Linked DNA regions of Homo sapiens: region 2 is linked to region 1. The links come from fine-mapping of genetic effects on gene expression. A gene starts in region 1. The other region holds a variant in brackets. All regions are shown on one strand. Distances are between the middles of the regions.

Region 1 (8,772 bases):
GAGCCAGCCCCTGCAGAAAGCCTCTGCCCTCATCTCCCCCAGGGCCATGCCATCCGACTGTATCTTAAGTTCCTGCAGAAAGCTAGAGTTTTCTGAGGTGGGGCTTAATGGTATATGTAGTTCAGCTGGTTGGCTGCCACGTCTGGTTAAGGATTAGAGTGGGGAGAAAAGAGAATGTTTGGCGAGAAGAACAGGGGCAAAGATTCCTGTCATCTCTCCATCACCTCTCTGGCTTCAGACCTTTGAGAACCAGTGGTCTCTAGTGGGCCACTGGGTGCATCTCCCGAAGGCAGTGTGTGGCTGTGATGGGAGACAGCGCCCCTCTGTGTCTCTGGTCTGCAGGCTGGGACAGGGTCTTGTTCAGTCCTCTGAACTGTGTGGGAGGTGCTGGTCAGACCTGGTCCACAGGCATGGGAGGTGGACATGGCAGGGCTGACCAGTGGAGATCAGAGGGCAGAGTGCTGCCAGAGGGACCATTCTTTCAGAGGGAAAGGAAACAAACCTCCTGGCTGCTCCCAATTTTAAAGGTCCCTTGGGACTTACTTGGCCGAAGTGAGGATGTTAACCCCAGAGTCCTGGCTGTCCTCCAGCCCAAGTCCTTAGAGGCAGCTCGTCACCCCAGCCACTACCGTGGGACATGGTACACGTCCCATCTCATGTTGAACTCACCAGAGAGGGCGGCAGTGGGCAAATCTCCACTTCATAACCCTACAACATGTATTAACAATTTGGATCTCTTTATTCACTAAATAGTTTGTCTCTGAGGCAACACAAGAGATAGATGAGGTGACCTTTAGCTGCCTTTCAACATGAGTATCATGGATTACAAGAGGCTGGGAGACTCCTTGGGGATTGCCTTGTTCACCTCTCTATTATTGAGACAAGGAAACAGGCTTAAGGCTTGGCTGAGCTTTCCTGGTTGTTTCCCGGGAGAATGAGCTCTGCAGATTGGTAAAAGCTTCTCATGCACCCCCACAGCCTTCCCTTATACTGCAGAGTTTTTTATTCAACAGGGTTTGTGCAAAGCAAAAAGTAGTGCATAGTGGAGGAGAGTGCCCTGAGAATTCAGGAATCAAGACAAAAGAGACTGAGCCCATGAACACAGGTCCAACTGGAGTTCAGTATGGGAGGCTCTGGTGCACTCAGTTCAACTGGTTCCTTTGTTTTGGCTTTCTCAGAGCCTGTTCTGTTTGTTTGTTTTGAGACAGAGTCTCACTCTGTCAGCAAGGCTGGAGTGCAGTGGCGCAACCTCGGCTCACTGCAACCTCCACCTCCCTGCTTCATGCAATTCCCCTGCCTCAGCCTCCCAAGTAGCTGGGATTACAGGTGCATGCTACCATGCCTGTCTAATTTTTTTGTATTTTTAGTAGAGACAGAGTTTCACCATGTTGGCCAGACTGGCCTCGAACTCCTGACCTCAGGCAATCCGCCCACCTCGGCCTCCCAAAGTGCTGGGATTACAGGCGTGAACAGAGCCTTTTTAAGTAAATTGGAATCATAACTCTCTGAGGAGGGAAGAGTAGGAGGCAACATTCATCCAAATATTTGATCATAAATGCTTTATATCAAGGAGCCCCCAGCAACAGCCCCCAAAATTAGTGTTCTATGTATACCATGCTTTAGGAAACACTTGACCAAAAGATAGAGTCCCAAGGGTGGTAGAAAATCAACACCTCCTCTTGATTCTGCTCCCATCTTTTGCATGGCCGTGGACTTCCTTGCTGTCTATCAGTGGCATGCTCCACCATGGACGTTCTGAGAGAGTTAGGATGCCCTCAACCTGACTTCTTCCAAACCTTGAGGAGAGATGGAATGGACCAGCCTATCCAAAGTCCCCTTTATGGTTTTCTCATGGGAGAAAGAGGTGACATCTAGGCAGGAACATTAGTGCTGTACGCAGTGTTCAGCAGATATTAATGATAATTCAGTCTTTATTAAACCTTTCTTAGGTGCCATCTCAGGTTCTCTTAGCCTCAACCTGTCTCTAGGACTCTTGGTCCCTTTTTTACTCCAGCCAAGGAAGTGGCTCTTCTGACCACTTCTGGACTCAGATGAGGTGCCAAGCCTCTAGCAATTAGATCTAGTTTTCCCAGTGGCTGCCACAGGGGTCAGAAGACACAAGCTGGAAGTGCAGGACAGTTAACTCCCCATAGGGCAAGCTTTGAACAATAAGAGAGGAGACAGAGTGAGCCAACATATAAATGTCCTCTCTACCCTTGCTCGGATAGACTCTTCCAAGGCACAATGCATCTGCAACGCCAGTCCAGAGGGGCCCTGCTTTGGCCAAGTGGCTGGTCATGTCTCTTTGTGAAGAGAGGCCAGGTGGTGGCACATCATCCCTCACTGCTTCCCCTTTTTCTCTTCCCATTTCCCACTTCCCTGACTCTCACTCCCCTGGTGTCTTACCTTAAGTGCTAAGTAGCACTTAAGCTTTGCCTCAGGCTTTGTTTTATAGAGAACCCAGGCTAAAATAATGTCAACAATAATGACTAAAATATCTTCAGCACTTGCCATGTGCTCAAGTACTGCTAAGTGCTTTCCATATAGGATCTCATTTGATCCTTTCACTGATCTTTTGGGGTAGATTACTGTTGCTACCATGTCTTAGTGATGAGGAAACTGGGACCCCCAAGAGGTTAAGGAGCATGCCCCAAATCACACAGCTCACCATATGGAAGCATCAAGCACAATGCTTGATACGGAGTGAGCCTCAGGGCCAGTAGGTTGGTCTTTTTTTTTTGAGACAGGGTCTTGCTCTGTCACTCAGGCTGGAGTGCAGTGGCATGATCATAGCTCACTGAAGCCTCAACCTCCTGGGCTCAAGCAATCCTTTCACCTCAACCATGGACCCCTCCCCCTGCCTCCAATAGCTGGGACTACAGGTGTGCACCACCACATGTAGCTAATATTTTTTCCCAGACCCCCAATTTTTAATTTATTTTTGTAGAGACAGGGTTTCACCATGTTGCCCAGGCTGGTCTTGAACTCCTGGGATCAAGCAATCTGTCCACCTCGGCCTCCCAAAGTGTTGAGATTACAGGTGTGAGCCACAGTGCTTGGCTTAATGTGTGCATTTCTTCATAGCATCTTTTCTTCTAAGGTGTTCTTTCAAGAGGGTAACTGAATACAACCAAATAACTAGGGGACAAGACAGGGTACCTACCAGGCACAGCAGAACTCCAGCTCTGTCATTTGCATCTGGTATAAACTTTTGCAGCAAGTCACTCACCGGTCCCTCACTTTTTCCATCTACAAAATGGGATAATGAACTCATGCTATATATAGCTTTTGCCTATTACACAGTTGGTAGATTATTACATTTCCATCAACCAATCTACTAATAAGTAAGCCTCCCTACAGCTGTCACTCCTCCAACCTTCAAAATAACAACAACAACAACAACAACAACAAAAACCCACAATACTTATGTCAAGGTGGGTACAAAGGTGAGACAATTCAAGAGGATAATCTGATTGAAAGTCTAGTTAATGCCACTCGGGGGTAACCAAAGTTGTGTTTGTGACCCAGGACAAATGGGACAGTCAGTAGTTCATGACCCAACTGTAACTATAGAGGGAAAATATCTGCACTTATTCTAATCTGGTTAACTTGGGTCCAAGCTGAGCAGCTGGAACTGTCTCCCTGAGAACAGCATCACATCTCAAAGATTACATAACTTTAGCAGTTACAGAGACACATGTGTGTGACCATGACACCACTAGAGGCATATAGGAACCTCCTGAATCTCTGAAGTTGTAATGATCTGTCTTTTGTGATTAACCCAGAGTTGTCAACTTCATTCCTATAACTAATAAGCTAGATGATTAGAAAACAAAGGGCCCAGGTCCCATTCTTCCCTTTAGCAAATGTTTATTAAGCACCTACTATCTAACAGAAACTACACATCAGTGCACAAAGAAGACATGATTTCTGCCATCAATGTGTCCCTTACGGTGAACACAGCCCTCAAGGTCACAACTTAGAATGATCAGAAATCGAAGGTGACAGAATGATTAAGAAATACTCTCTTTGCATGAAATATGCAAAGTTTGGATTAGATTCTCTTAGAAAATTAACTCCCACTTTGCCCTAGTTTTTCTTAAAGCATATCCTTGGACCACCTGCATCAAAAAAACCCAGCTTCCAGAGCTACTGAATATGTACCTTGGGAGGTGGGAACTCAGAAGCGACATCATGAAGCTCTCTAGAAAATTGTACATGCTCACTAATGTTTAGAGGACTGCCTTGGTCCACAGCTCTGGGACATGACCACGCACAACTTACCTGTTTCCTAGGCAGGTGTGTCTGATGGAGGAGGGGAGACGGGCAGGTTCCACAGGCTCTCAGGTTAGAGAGTGGTGGAGGAGACTGGCAGAGGAGGAGAGCATGGCCGGCCGTCTTGGAGAAAGAGCAGTGCTGGTGTCTGCTTACTCCTGACCTCAGGCTTTTCCTTATATGGGTGTACCAGGTAAAGGCAGGCTCCACCTTCGTTAAACAGTGACTTCAGCATTGGGCAGTGGCCTGCCACCTCTTGGAGAGAGAGAGGACATTGAATGTAAACAGCAACAGCTTCCAGATTCTCCGCCCCAAGCCTATCTCTGCCTTATCCCACCTCACTTCCTGGGGCCCCTAAGCTGCCCGTTTCTTGGCTCTTGCAGTTTTCATTGTTTCCAGATATTTAAGTTTCTTTATCTTTATTCTGCTTCAGGGAATTTGTGTTTTGTTTTGGTTTGTTTTACAAAACCCCTCTGCTGAGAAAAGACTGAGGGAAGCAACCTTCCTTCAGGCCTCATTCTCATACAGGAAAGTACAATTGCCATGTCTCCTGCATCAAGAGTGGCCACTCCACGTCAATCATATCACATCTCTTTCTACTAGACGCAGTATCTTCTTTCTACAAATACATTGTAGAACACATTAACTCCTGGGCATGGCGAGACCCAGGGAAGGTCTCTGCATCATCCCTGCTTGCTGGATGGGGCAGAAAGAGATGAGGCGTGTAAAGTGCATGTTTCCTGTTCTCAAATCCAAGGGGCTATTTGCTTTTCTGGCATCTTTAATTCCTTGATGTTCTTCATCCCCATTCATAAGTGCTCTTTAGAAGCCAGTTCCAGAACCCTGATCGCATGGCACACCCTATGCTATAGGCAATAATGATAAAATAGGTAAAACAGGGAAACAATGTGGAAATCACCAAAAACTGTTATGACTGGTCCATTCCCAAATTCTGATGAGTAGAAAGGGATATTTGGCACATGAATGAAGAATCTGAGAAGCTGGAAAGTATGGATATGAGTTTTAACCCCAGTTTTGCAACTTTTGGCTGTGTGACCTGGGCAAGTCCCTTCCCATCTTAGTCTATTAATCCGTGAGCTGAGGATTATGATGCTTACCCTGTCTGCCTTGTGTTTGTTTAGTGGGATTCCTGCATCCCAGCGGACACCTTCTATTAGAAATTTCACTATAAATACAGTAAACAATACACACACACACACTATTGCATAAACATCATCAGTGAATAAATACGCAGATATCTGTGGTGCATGTTCAAAATGATTTTACTAATAGAGCATGCAATGAAAAATGTTGGAAAGCCATAGTTTCAGAAAAAAATGGTGAGAAAATGCTTCAGAAAGCCCTACCCACAAGGATATATCACAAGACAGTGTCTCAAGAAAATTAATTGGGAGTTTTCTTGCTTATTGATGATGGTTTTGTCATCTCCCATCTCTAAAAATATATTTTTCCCCCTAAGAGTGGGAGCTGTTATCCCCAGAGCAGTCTTTGGGAGTACTGAGTTAAAAAGGGAAACAGCTCCCGATGGAGTGTTCTAGGTGCCAAGAAACAAGCCGCTCTGGGTGATAATTGTGCCGGAAGAATGGCTTAGGTGAGGGACCCTGTCAAGAACACCTGTGCACAAATCCCAGGGGCTGTTTTCTTTTCTGGCATCTTTGATTCTTTGGTGTTCTTCCTCCCATTTATAGGTGCTCTTTAGAAGCCAATTCTCAGTGATTTGTTTTTTCCAGAGAATTCCAGCCGAAGGCTATAAACTGGGCAACACCTAACAGTAAGTTCTTAGCTGGACTTGCTCCAACTCTGAAGGCCGTGTGGCATGCCCCTTAAATGCTTCCAATGCCTTTCTGGCATTCCCTGCTGAGCACTGCATAGCTGCCCTGAGATGCAGTCCTTTGCGGCATGCATGGGACCCACCACAGCCCTCCTCTCCCTCTGAGTCTCGATCTCCTTCACTGTATGTGATGGCTTCTGTGTCACGGAGCCCCACTGGGGCCTCCCCTGCCACTACCTGTGTCTACCAAATACACTGATCCTGCTATGGCTGTCCAAGCCTGGCCTGTGAGGGCTGTTCTTCGAGTGCCAACTGTGGGTGTAGGAAATGCCGTCATTGCCATTGTGCTGTGGCCATACCTGCACTTCCTCTGCCACGCCATGACTGCCCCTGATGTGACTGGCTCCTGCACTCATGCCGCTGACATTTAGTGCTCAGTGTCCTAAAGAAATGCAAAGAAATAGCTCTTTTTTTGCAATCACTTCGAGCCAGAAGAAAACTGGAGCCAGACTAGGCTCAGGGTCCCCGTCCTCCCCTTATGAACCTAGGCTACAGTCCTTGAACCAATCTTGCCCACAGGGAGACCACCTTCTCTGAGAGAGACTTCTTTCTCCAGAGACTCCTTACTCAATCATGTCAACACACTCCTGAGTGCTCCCACTCACCAACCTGTAGCCATGCCTCAGAATACCCAGATCTTGAGAGACATAACTCTTCCTCTCTCCTTCCTTCCCCTTCTCCTTTCTGTCTTCTTCCCCCAACCCCACTGTTCTGTCTCCCTCTCTGCCTCTCCAACATTCTCTTACAAACTGTTTCTCATGCCATGTTGCCAGGCACTGCACCAGGCTCAGGGAACACAGCAGCAGGTCCAGCGGACACACAAGCCCAGTGGACTTAGAATCTAGTGAGAGACACACATGAAACCAATAACCACAAAAGCAGCCAGATTATTTCTCTTGCAATTAGTGCTATGAAGGGGATTTGCAGGTTCTAGGAGACACCCAAACAGGAAAAAGTAGGCAGTGCCTCCACTGAGGAGTCATGAGACGCCCTCCTGGGGAGTGAAGGATGTGGGGAGCCAGCCAGGAGGAGAGGGTCGAGGAGGAGGCTGTGGTGAGACTGGTAAGAATGTGCAAATCCTGTGTACAGCTTGATAAATGTTCACAAAGGAAACCCAAGTTACCGGCATCCAGATTAAGAAACACCATTACCAGAACCCAGAAGCTCCTTTGCACCCTTTCTCATAATGTCCTTTGGTTTACCCTCAAGGTAAACTGTCCTGAGTCAGTTAATTTTGAAAAGCCTTATCCTCTTTTCCTTTATAAGAAAACAAACCCTGTGTTGACTTAGGGAATTAAATCAAATGACCCTGTAAAATATCACAAAGGGGACTGTTTTGGCAGGGGAAACAGGTATACAGAGTGTTTACCACATGGTTAAATGGATCATTTAGCAGATTTCATGTACATTTCATGTATTTGTACATTCCCCTGTGGGTGGAAATAGCAAAGTCAACAAAGTGCAGTGATTTTTATTAATGCCGAAAAGTATGAAGTGCCTGGAGGTCACCCAGCTTGAGTTTGCTGTGCCATGGCTGCCAGCTAGGCAGATTACAAACTACCAAGTCAAGCCCAGGCCTATTACACCCCGGTTCCTTCTTGTGCCCTGGGGGACAGAACCCCAGCAAAAGCCAGAGTTTCCATTCTTATGCATAGATGAGAACACAGAGTGTGTGTGCGTGGTGGGGCAGCAGGAGGCGTGGAGGCAAGAGGAACATAAGGAAGCCAGAGATGGTTTAAAAATGAGTGATGTTCCTTATTATAAAATACTCATCACAGGCTGGGTGCAGTAGCTCACGCCTGTAATCCCAGCAGTTTGAGAGGCTAAAGCGAGTGGATCACTTGAAGTCAGGTGTTCAAGACCAGCCTGGGCAACATGGTGAAACCCCGTCTCTACTAAAAATACAAAAATTAGCCAGGTGTGGTGGTGCATGCCTGTAATCCCAGCTACTCAGGAGGCTGGGGCAGGAGACTAGCTTGAATCTGGGAGGCAGAGGCTGCAGTGAGCTGAGATCACACCACTATACTCCAGCCTGGGTGACAGAGCAAGATTGTCTCAAAAAATAAAATACAATAAACAAAATACTCATCACAGAAACTTTTGAAAAATTATTTAAAAGTTAAAAAATAACCATAATCTTATACTCAGAGATAATGATTATTTTTCGTCTTCCTTTTTCTAGACACAGCCACACATAATGCAGACATTTCAGTCACTGGCGCCTACAAGTGCTTGCAAGAGATGTCGACTCAGTGCTCACGTTCTGAATGCACTGGCTTGGAGCCCTTTCCCAGCTGATGCAACGTCTCCCCCTGGGAATCTCTGGGAAGCCCCGAGAGTGTCTGCTGGTTGTCCACCGAACATCTTCTGCATTCCATTAGGCATTGTGGTCTCTGGGGGACACTATACCTTCTCTAAGGGAGCTCTGTCCTCCCTAGGGTTATGAACTCTTGATTGACCTCTCTCTATTGTCTCTAGCCCTAGTTCTTCCACTCCCAAATAGCTTCTCAGTGTCCCTCTCCCATGCAAATCACTTGAGCAAATATATGCCCCCAAAGCAAGTGTTTAGAATACCAAGTCTCAGCTGGGAGTGGTGAGGGATGCCTATTATCCCAGCTCCTTGGGTGGCTAAGGCAGGAGGATCA
Region 2 (8,772 bases), 210 kb after region 1:
ACTCCTGGGCTCAAACAATCCTCCCGACTCAGCCTCCTGAGTAGCTGGCTGGGACTACAGGCACACGACACCATGCCTGGCTGATTTCTTTATTTTTTATGTTTTTGTAGAGGTGAGGTCTCACTATGTTGCCCAGGTTGGTCTCAAATTCCTGGCCTCAAGCAATCCTCCCATCTTAGCTTCCCAAAGTGCTGGGATTACAGGTATGAACCACTGCACCCTGCCAACCCTCAGATTTTTCAACACCATCAGCTCTCTTCAGTTTCCAAGGACCAGATTCTCTCTGAGGTCCCTTCCTTCAGAACCTTAGATCTGCATGGGTGTGACATCCACGTCTCACTCACTAAATGGCTCCCCCCAGCCTTGCTGTCTCCAGTCCTGTCAAAGAGTCACTCTCAGCACATTAAGCATTAAGGCTTTCCAGGCAGAAAAGATGACTGTACCTTCTTCTCGCCTGCCTCCAAAATCAAGGCTGGAAGAGAGGCAGCCAGCATGAGTGGTGGGAGGATGCGGTGCATAGAGAAAGTAGGTCATTAGTGGTAAAGACTACAATTTTAAAGCGGTTGTTAATGCTCTGTTTATACGGATTTCTTCAAATGTGACATTTTAATGGCATAATAATTGTGTGATTACAGTGCAGTCGACACCGCTCCGGGAGGAAAGGCGACAGGGACTCTAGCTTCCTGCTGGGGGAGGCGGCTCCCTGCACGGGTGGCCGGGGACCATGTGGCACTGCTCAGGCCAGGATGCCAGACAAGCATGAGAAATGGCTCCCTGGAGGGCCCTCTGCTAGACAAGGGCCATAGGTTCCCAGGAAACTTGCATCTGGCTTAGCCCTTGAACAAAATCAATGCCCCGGGCTGCAGGAGGGGAGATAATGACAGCAGAACTTGCAATTCACTTCATTCATTCACTTCATGCATTCATTTATTTATTCATTATTTCTTGAGTTCTTACTGTAAACTGAGGGAAAAGGCCAATAGATATGCAGAAAGAATGAAAGAAGAACAAATGGAGGAGGCAGAGGGCAAGGAAGAGGATCTCACATTTATTGGGCACCTACTGGATGCTCAGCACTAAGGCACAATTTGGCACATTCATCTTCCTTGGCCCTTCAGCAACATCCTACCCCCTGGAAAAGCCCCCCTTCGAGGGTCCTTGTCTCTCTGTTTCAGAATACTTTCTCCTGGGCTTCTCAGACTTTGGCATCTTCTTCATTTCCTTCTCTGGCTCCTCCCTTCCCCTGATTTCTCATTGTTGGAAGTGTGCATGGATTTAGCCCTGGTCCCTCCTCTCCACTCGTTACACTCTCCCTACAGGTGACTTCCTCCATTCCTGTGCCTTGACAACCTTCTATAGATGGAGGATTCCAATATAGTTTTCCAGCCCAGATCTCTTTTCTGAGCTCCAGAACAATATCAAAAAAACGCCTACTGGACATGCCCACTTAAGGTCTCACAAGCATCTCACCTTGCATGGATTTCAAATGGAACTCTTGATTTGCCCATTGGAACTGGTGCCTCTTCCAGGCTTTCACAAGTAAAGAAATGGCACCACCAGCCACATAGCTGCACAAGTCAGGAATCTGAGAGTTACCCTCGACAATTCCTTCTTCCTCATTCTAAATCTCACTCTAATCACTTGAACCCACACACAACTAACCCATCCCCATGTCCTGTTGGTTCTGCCTGCAAAGCATGCCTCCATCCAGCCACCCTCCTTTTCCCATCTCTACAACCATACCCAACCACCACCAACTGCATTCTGGAATACTGCATTTGATCCCTCCAATTCATTTTCCAAAGTCACCTTGTTTTGTTTTGTTTCGTTTTTAGACATAGTCTTGCTCTGTCACCCATGCTGCAGTGCAATGGCATGATCTTGGCTCATTGCAACCTCCGCCTCCTGAGTTCAAGCGGTTCTCATGCCTCAGTCTCCTGAGTAGTTGGGATTACAGGAGCCCACCACCACATCTGCCTAATTTTTGTATCTTTTTAGTAGAGACGGGGTTTCACCATGTTGGTCAGCCTGGTCTCAAACTCCTGACTTCAGGTGATCCACCTGCCTCAGCCTCCCAAAGTGCTGGGATTACAGGCGTGAACCACTGCGCCTGGCCCAAAGTCGCCTTCTTAAAAACGACATCTGTGGCTGGGCGTGGTAGCTCATGCCTGTAATCCCAACACTTTGGGAGGCCAAGGCGGGCAGATCACGAGGTCAGGAGATCCAGACCATCCTGGCTAACACGGTAAAACCCCATCTCTACTAAAAATACAAAAAATAAATAAATAAATAAATTAGCCGGGCGGGGTGGTGAGCACCTGTAGTCCCAGCTACTTGGGAGGCTGAGGCAGGAGAATGGCGTGAACCCGGGAGGTGGAGCTTGCAGTGAGCCGGGATTGCGCCACTGCACTCCAGCCTGGGCAACAGAGAGAGACTCTGTCTCAAGATGACATTCGTTCCCGTCTCTCCCATTCTGGCTCAGAATCCCTCCAGCGGCTCCCACTGCACTCAGAATGCTGTCCTCACTCTTTCCTGTGGCCCCCAAGGCCCTGCCTGATCAGAACCTGCAAACTCTCCACACTTACCCCTCCCCATCCCTCTTAGCTCATTATGTTCCAGCCACACTGGCCGTTCTTCCCTTTCTCATCCATCTCATCCCATCTCATAGGGCTTTCTGCCTGGAATACTCTCAATCTGATCAACTGTGGCCAGCAAGGAAGTGGCAAGATGGGAAACCAGAACCATTTTGCCTACAAAAAACTTTCAATGGGCCTGGCTTTTCAGAAAAGAGAAGACCAGCAAGGGCTGGTGCCATCAGGGAGAGGTTCAGCAGGGAGGCAAGCCTTGGCCTAGGCCTACAGGAATTAACTAGACTGAGACAGAAGCACAGGAAGGAGGGAGGGAAGGGATAGGGAGGGTGGACACCCACGAGAGCTGGGTCTGCAATCTCTCCTCCAGTTACTGTCTCTGTGACCTTGGGAAGTGACTTAACCTCTCTCCCTCAACTGAGAGTTAGCTGTCTGGCTGTCTATTCTGCAAAACTGTGATGCCATTTTACGGATCTAATGGACTAAAATAAGTAAAGCACTAAGCTCTGTGCCAGGCATACTTTTAGCACTCAAAAAAGAATAGCTACCACTTTGGTAGCAAAGTGAAGACAACGTTGTATGTCCATGGGGCAGTAAGAGCTGACTTTTAGATCTGGCCTCCACAACCTTGAATCCTCGGGTAAACCATTTCTGCTCACTGGGTCTCTGGTTACTTTTCCCACCTATAAAATATAGGGGTTACATAGCAGAGGCATCCTTAACTATTTGAGGAGACAGGGCCCTATTTTTCAGTGTAATAGAAGCCATGGTCTTTTCTTCCCCAGAAATAGATGCAAAATTCTGCTCACAGGATCTAGGATCCAGTGCCACCCTGGGGCCACAGGAGGCACCTGGCTGTTAAGAGGAGAGGGCGCCTCTCTGAAAGATGAGCTCACACTGGCAGACCTGTCTGGCAGCAAATAAATCTATGATACTCTCCCTTCTCCCTCCCAGCTACCCCTCAGGGGGCCAAAGCTGGCTCCTCAGCTCTGCCAGCCTCTGCCCACCCCATGCCGAGCACAGTCAGGAGGCATGCTGTGCAGAGGGACTCCATAATTGGTCCCTGCTCTGTTTGTACTTCAAACAACAACCTTGAGATGTGTTCTCTGGACGTGCCGCCTGGCTCTGGCTGCCATAACGCTCAGCCGGGAAACACATCTCCAGAGATCCACAGCACTGGGGAAAAGCTAGGCATTCTTCAGCTGATGCCCAGGAGCTGAAGGTGTTTGAAACGGGCAGGGGCAAAGAAGGGTGGGGAACGCCAGTCTGCTCAGGAAATTCTCTACTCCTTGGTGACAGTTTCCAGTACAGAAGATATCTCCTCATTCTCTTTGCAGAGCCGACCAACAGATAAGCGCTGGGGATTTATGTCTTTAGACCTGTATTTAATTTTTCACACTGCTGCTGGAATGGCTCTTCTAAGACACGGTTGGATCCCACTCACAGAATAAAGGCCAAGTTCTTTGCCGTGGTCTGCAAGTACTGCCCTGGACTTTTGGTCTGGCTTAACCCTGGTTCCCACACACTGGCATCCTTCCATTAAACTGCCACCACCATGACTTTAAGGAAGCAAGCAAATCTGGTCCCTGCAACCTAATAGTGTCCCCTCTTCTTATGGCAGCACCTATAGTTACCTGTTTATTGGGTCTCTTCCACAAAACAGCGTGTGTCCTGGAGGCAGGAGTGTGGCTTTTCTCTCTGAGAGGTTGGTAATAAAAACTGCTCACAGCCTCAGTGCAGCTCTCCCTTCCCACCTCACTCCACCAAGGCCCTCAGGCTACAGACAAGGGGACAGACACAGAACTCACAGCCCTCAAACTATGCCTTGTGGAGGAAATGAACAGGCTCAGACATGGTGAAAAAAGGGTTAAGAATGAACTTGCCCTGAATCAGGGTGTGTAGGTCAAGCAAGATGCAAAGGAACTGCATGGCAATGATGCAAACATGCCCCTGTGTGGGTGGGGCCAAAACCAAAACCAAACAAACCAACAAAATGGAACACAGTATGAAAAAAAATCCAAAAACAACACCACCCACACACACAAAACAAAAACCCCAGTCTAAATAAAAACAACTAAACAAATGGAAGGAAATTACCCAAACGTGCTTCATGCTATGGAATAGCTTAAAAGCATGAATTTAATAAAATAAGAGCTAAAGGATTAGATGATTAAATAAAGCAATGGAATAAAGAATGATAAAACTGAGAACCACAAAACACTTTTGCAGAACCAATAAATACATGTTGAAACTCCAAGAAGCAGTGCAGGCACAGCAGGAAATCTAATTACTGATACCAACTAAAGGGTTCCAGTCCTGGCTCTGACACTCTTGAGCAGTGGGACCTTGGGCAAGTCACTGGGACTCAGAGGAGAAAGATTTAAATTATTAAAGCAACTACAGGAGAGAATAAAATGTATAGAAAGAGCAAAGGTGATCCAACATCAGAAAACTGGTGAACCTGAAGCAGAGAAACAGATGGAACACACAAAACAGTCTTCATCTTTTTAAATAAAAACCTCCTGAGATGAATAAAGATCTGAGTCTGCACATCAAAATTGCACACCACATTCCATAAAAAATTGATACAAAGGGATTGACACGAAGATGTTTCCTGGTTTAGGTATCGAACTTCCAAATGCAAGAAAGAAATCATCAAGCACCCAGGCAGAA[C/A]CAACAAGTCACCTACAGAAGGGGAAATGTTCAGCTGACCTCAAACTTCCCCGCGGCAGCTTTCCATGTCAGCGGATAATGAAGCAACACCCACGGGGCTGAGTCCAAATGTGACCAGAAGCATTTTAACCTGCTGAGGTGCCGTTCAAGTACGGACAGCAGGAGTGTGATATTCCCACATCCAAGCTCAGGGATGACAGCACCTATGAGCCCATTTTGAAGCAGCCACTAGAATCCACTATGGCAGACTTCTAATTTGGACCCCAGTCTGTCTGGCCCATGCTCTTTCTGTTAATGCCATTTCTGCTTTATATATGAATTTTGTTCCCACATGCAGTCAATGAAGAGGTGGTTCAAAATAAAAAACCCAAGAATGGAGCAGAAGAACCAGTAGAGCACTGAATCTATGTAATTACAAAACTAAAAGTAAACAGCTATGGGAATGGTCATGAAACACTACAAAAGTGTTATAGACTCTGACAATCTAAAAATAACGATTGTGCAGACAATGGCTTTAAGTTTCTGTCCCTGTAAGATTTCATGAAAGCTGCACTTAAGGAATGAAAACAGATGAACCTAAATTTTCTCAAGACCTATGCTCTGACACTGGCTCCACTGCTTACTGTTTATGTGATTTGGAGGAAGCTGCTTAACCTGTTTGAACCTCAGTTCCATCACCTGTAAAATGGGGAGAATAATGCCTATTTCACAGGGTTTTAAGAATTAAATGAAAATACTGTAGGTAAAAAGCAGTGGCTTGCACATAGTAAATGTCAATTAAGAGGAGAAGCTGACTAAAGATGAGAATAAAAGTGAACATCTCCCTTCCCCCTTCCTCCCCAAAAAAGGCAAGGGGGTACCCATCAGCTCTGGATCTGGATAGCTAGTGAGGCTCTGGGCTCTCCAGTAGGTTGCTGTATCAATTCACAATGTTGCAACTCATTGCAGGGAGAAGCCCCTCCCACAGAGAGGCATTGGGCCCCCAGTTTCCAACCACACAGAGAGCAAACTCTTTTCCCCAGGACTGAGGCAGAGAAACTGAAGACTGAAGGAAAAGCAAGCCTTCACCTCCTGGCAGGGGCATGGTGAGAAGCAGTGTGGATCCAGCTGCTTGCCAGTGGATGCCCCCTTCTGAAGGCCTGAACAGGTCCCCATATGACTAGCCCTGAGGAACGCAGCATGCTGGGACACACGATACATGTAGGTCAGCAAGTCAGATTCTAGACCCAATCTATCTGCCACCCACTAGCAGTGTGACCTTGAGCAAGTCACTTGAACTCTCCCTATTTCCTCATCGTAGAATAAGAGGGTAGGAGTCAATGATCCCTAAAGCACCCCTGCGTTTACCATGTATATAGAGTGCAAAGTTCTGTGTGGGTTGTACCCTTACACCAGTCTTTCCTGCCATAATTAATTCAACAAGAACCCCAGAGAAAGGAAGAGGAAGGAGAAGGAAACATGAGACAGAAGTGTAAATTAGCAGGTGAGGGAATGCATAAAGGAGGGAGGGAAGGGCTAAAGTTCTGTGGCCTCTGAAGAATCAACCACTCGCTAGCTTTAAAGAGGCAGGAGCTTGGCCGGGCACCGTGGCTCATGCCTGTAATCCCAGCACTTTGGGAGGCTGAGGTGGGTGGATCACCTGAGGTCAGGAGTTTGAGACCAGCCTGACCAACTTGGTGAAACCTCATCTCTACTAAAAATACAAAAACGTTAGCTGGGCATAGTGGTGCACTCCTGTAATCCCAGCTACTTGGGAGGCTGAGGCAGGAGAATCGCTTGAACCTGGGAGGCTGAGGTTGCAGTGAGCCAAGAGCGTACCATTGCACTCCAGCCTGGGTGACAAGAGCTAACATCCATCTCAAAGGAAAAAAAAAAAAAAAAAAAGAGATGGGAACTCACTCTCTGCCAGTGAGAGTTGAGAGTTAGTGACTACAGCCTCTGCAGGGCACCCCAAATCCACTCCTGACAGGAGAATTGCAGAAAGAAGGCAACTCTGCCTTATAAAAAGGGTCCGGAAAATCTGCCTCCATCTATACTAAAATCGATGGGCTAACAGTTGAGATGAATCAGAATGTCTGCAAAGTCTCAAAGTACATCCTCCAATGTACTAATGGCAAAAGGGAAAAAAAGAGTAATTTTATGATGGAGACTGCTGGCCAGTACCACCCTAGCCAAGCAATCAAGATTAACATTACCAGTAATAAAACATATCAATATCACATATCCCCTATAAGGATGTACTGACAAGGGCTCAACACCACGTCTGTAGTATTTTTGCCAAAAACACGTAGCTTCAGTCTAATCTGGAGAAAACATCAGACAAACCCAATGGAGAGACATTCTACAAAACAACTGACTAGAACTCTTCAGCGTGTCAAGGTCACGTAAGACAAGGAAAGACATCACAGATTGGAAGAGACTATTACAATTAAATGCAAGGTGGATCCTGGCTTGGTAACCAGAGCCACTGGGATCATCCCACCAGACAAGCTGCCTAAACGAGACCTTGAAGCAGGCTGAGGGGGCATGAAATCTAGAATGGGTAGAGGAGGAAGGAGATGATGAGAGTCACAAACAATTGCAGCAGCAGGGCCTAGAGTTTGCTCTACTAGCCCTTCTGCATGGATCCGCTCGGGCTACCATCACAAAACACCATAGACCACGGGGCTTAAACAACAGAAGTTTATTTTCTCACAGCTCTGGACGCTGGCAGTCCAAGATCAACGTGCGAACAGGGTTAGTTTCTCCTGAGGCCTCTCCACTTGGCCCGCAGATGGCCGTCTTCTGGCTGAGTCCTCATGTGGTTTTTTCTCTGTGTGTACATCCCCAATGTCTCTTTCTGGATTTCTAATCTTCCCTTCTTGTAAGGACACCAATCAGATTGTATTATGCCAACCTTGATTACCTCCTTATAGGCCATCTCTCCAAATACAGTCACATGGGGGTTAGAGCTCCAACGTATGAATGGTAGAGGGTAGAGAAGGGACACAATTCAGGCGATTACACCTTTCCTTACAGAGCTTCCTAGAAACTGGGACTAAACAGAATCCCAGAGAAGCTGTACCAGGATAGAGGGATGAACCACAGTGGGTGCCACTGTGCCCCACACGAACTCCTTCCACTGGGCCTGCACACCCATCTCTCAGCTGCTAGGAGTGCTGGCTGCAAACTTCTACAGAGACCTGCCCCCCAGAACAAGACCTGCCTCTCCTGGGAGGTATATCCCCAACTCCAGGGAGCAACTGGTGCCAGTGGCTGAGCAATCTCTTCTCCAAGGCTCCCCTTGGAACCAGGTTGAAATCTCCTACTATGAGATACATCCTTGCAGAGCATCTTCCCCCGCCTGCCCTGTCTTGCTTCCCTCACTCCCCTCCTCCTGGGAGTGCTCTCATTAAATTTACAAGGCTCTGCTTCTATGGAATCTGACTCAAGACACAAAGCACTACCTACAAAGCTTAGGATAGTGCCTGGCACACAAAAGGGATCACGAGGTGTTAGCTATCATCCTCAC

Evidence for each region. PIP is the estimated chance that this variant, and not a neighbour inherited with it, causes the effect.
Region 2: its variant is fine-mapped to the expression of CAPN13 in whole blood (TOPMed, PIP above 0.99).

What each region holds. Positions count from the first base shown.
Region 1 is chr2:30,803,018-30,811,789 of GRCh38, forward strand. It overlaps CAPN13 (calpain 13), which reads right to left and starts at 4,429. Exons shown (of 23, transcript NM_144575.3): 1 at 4,285-4,429. LOC124905982 (a long non-coding RNA gene) reads right to left here. Exons shown (of 4, transcript XR_007086268.1): 4 at 6,179-6,509.
Region 2 is chr2:31,008,172-31,016,943 of GRCh38, forward strand. The region is part of intron 1 of GALNT14 (polypeptide N-acetylgalactosaminyltransferase 14); the gene reads right to left. Among named protein-coding and RNA genes, the nearest start is that of GALNT14, 130 kb to the right of the region's middle. The variant C/A (reference allele first, on the strand shown) is at 5,262.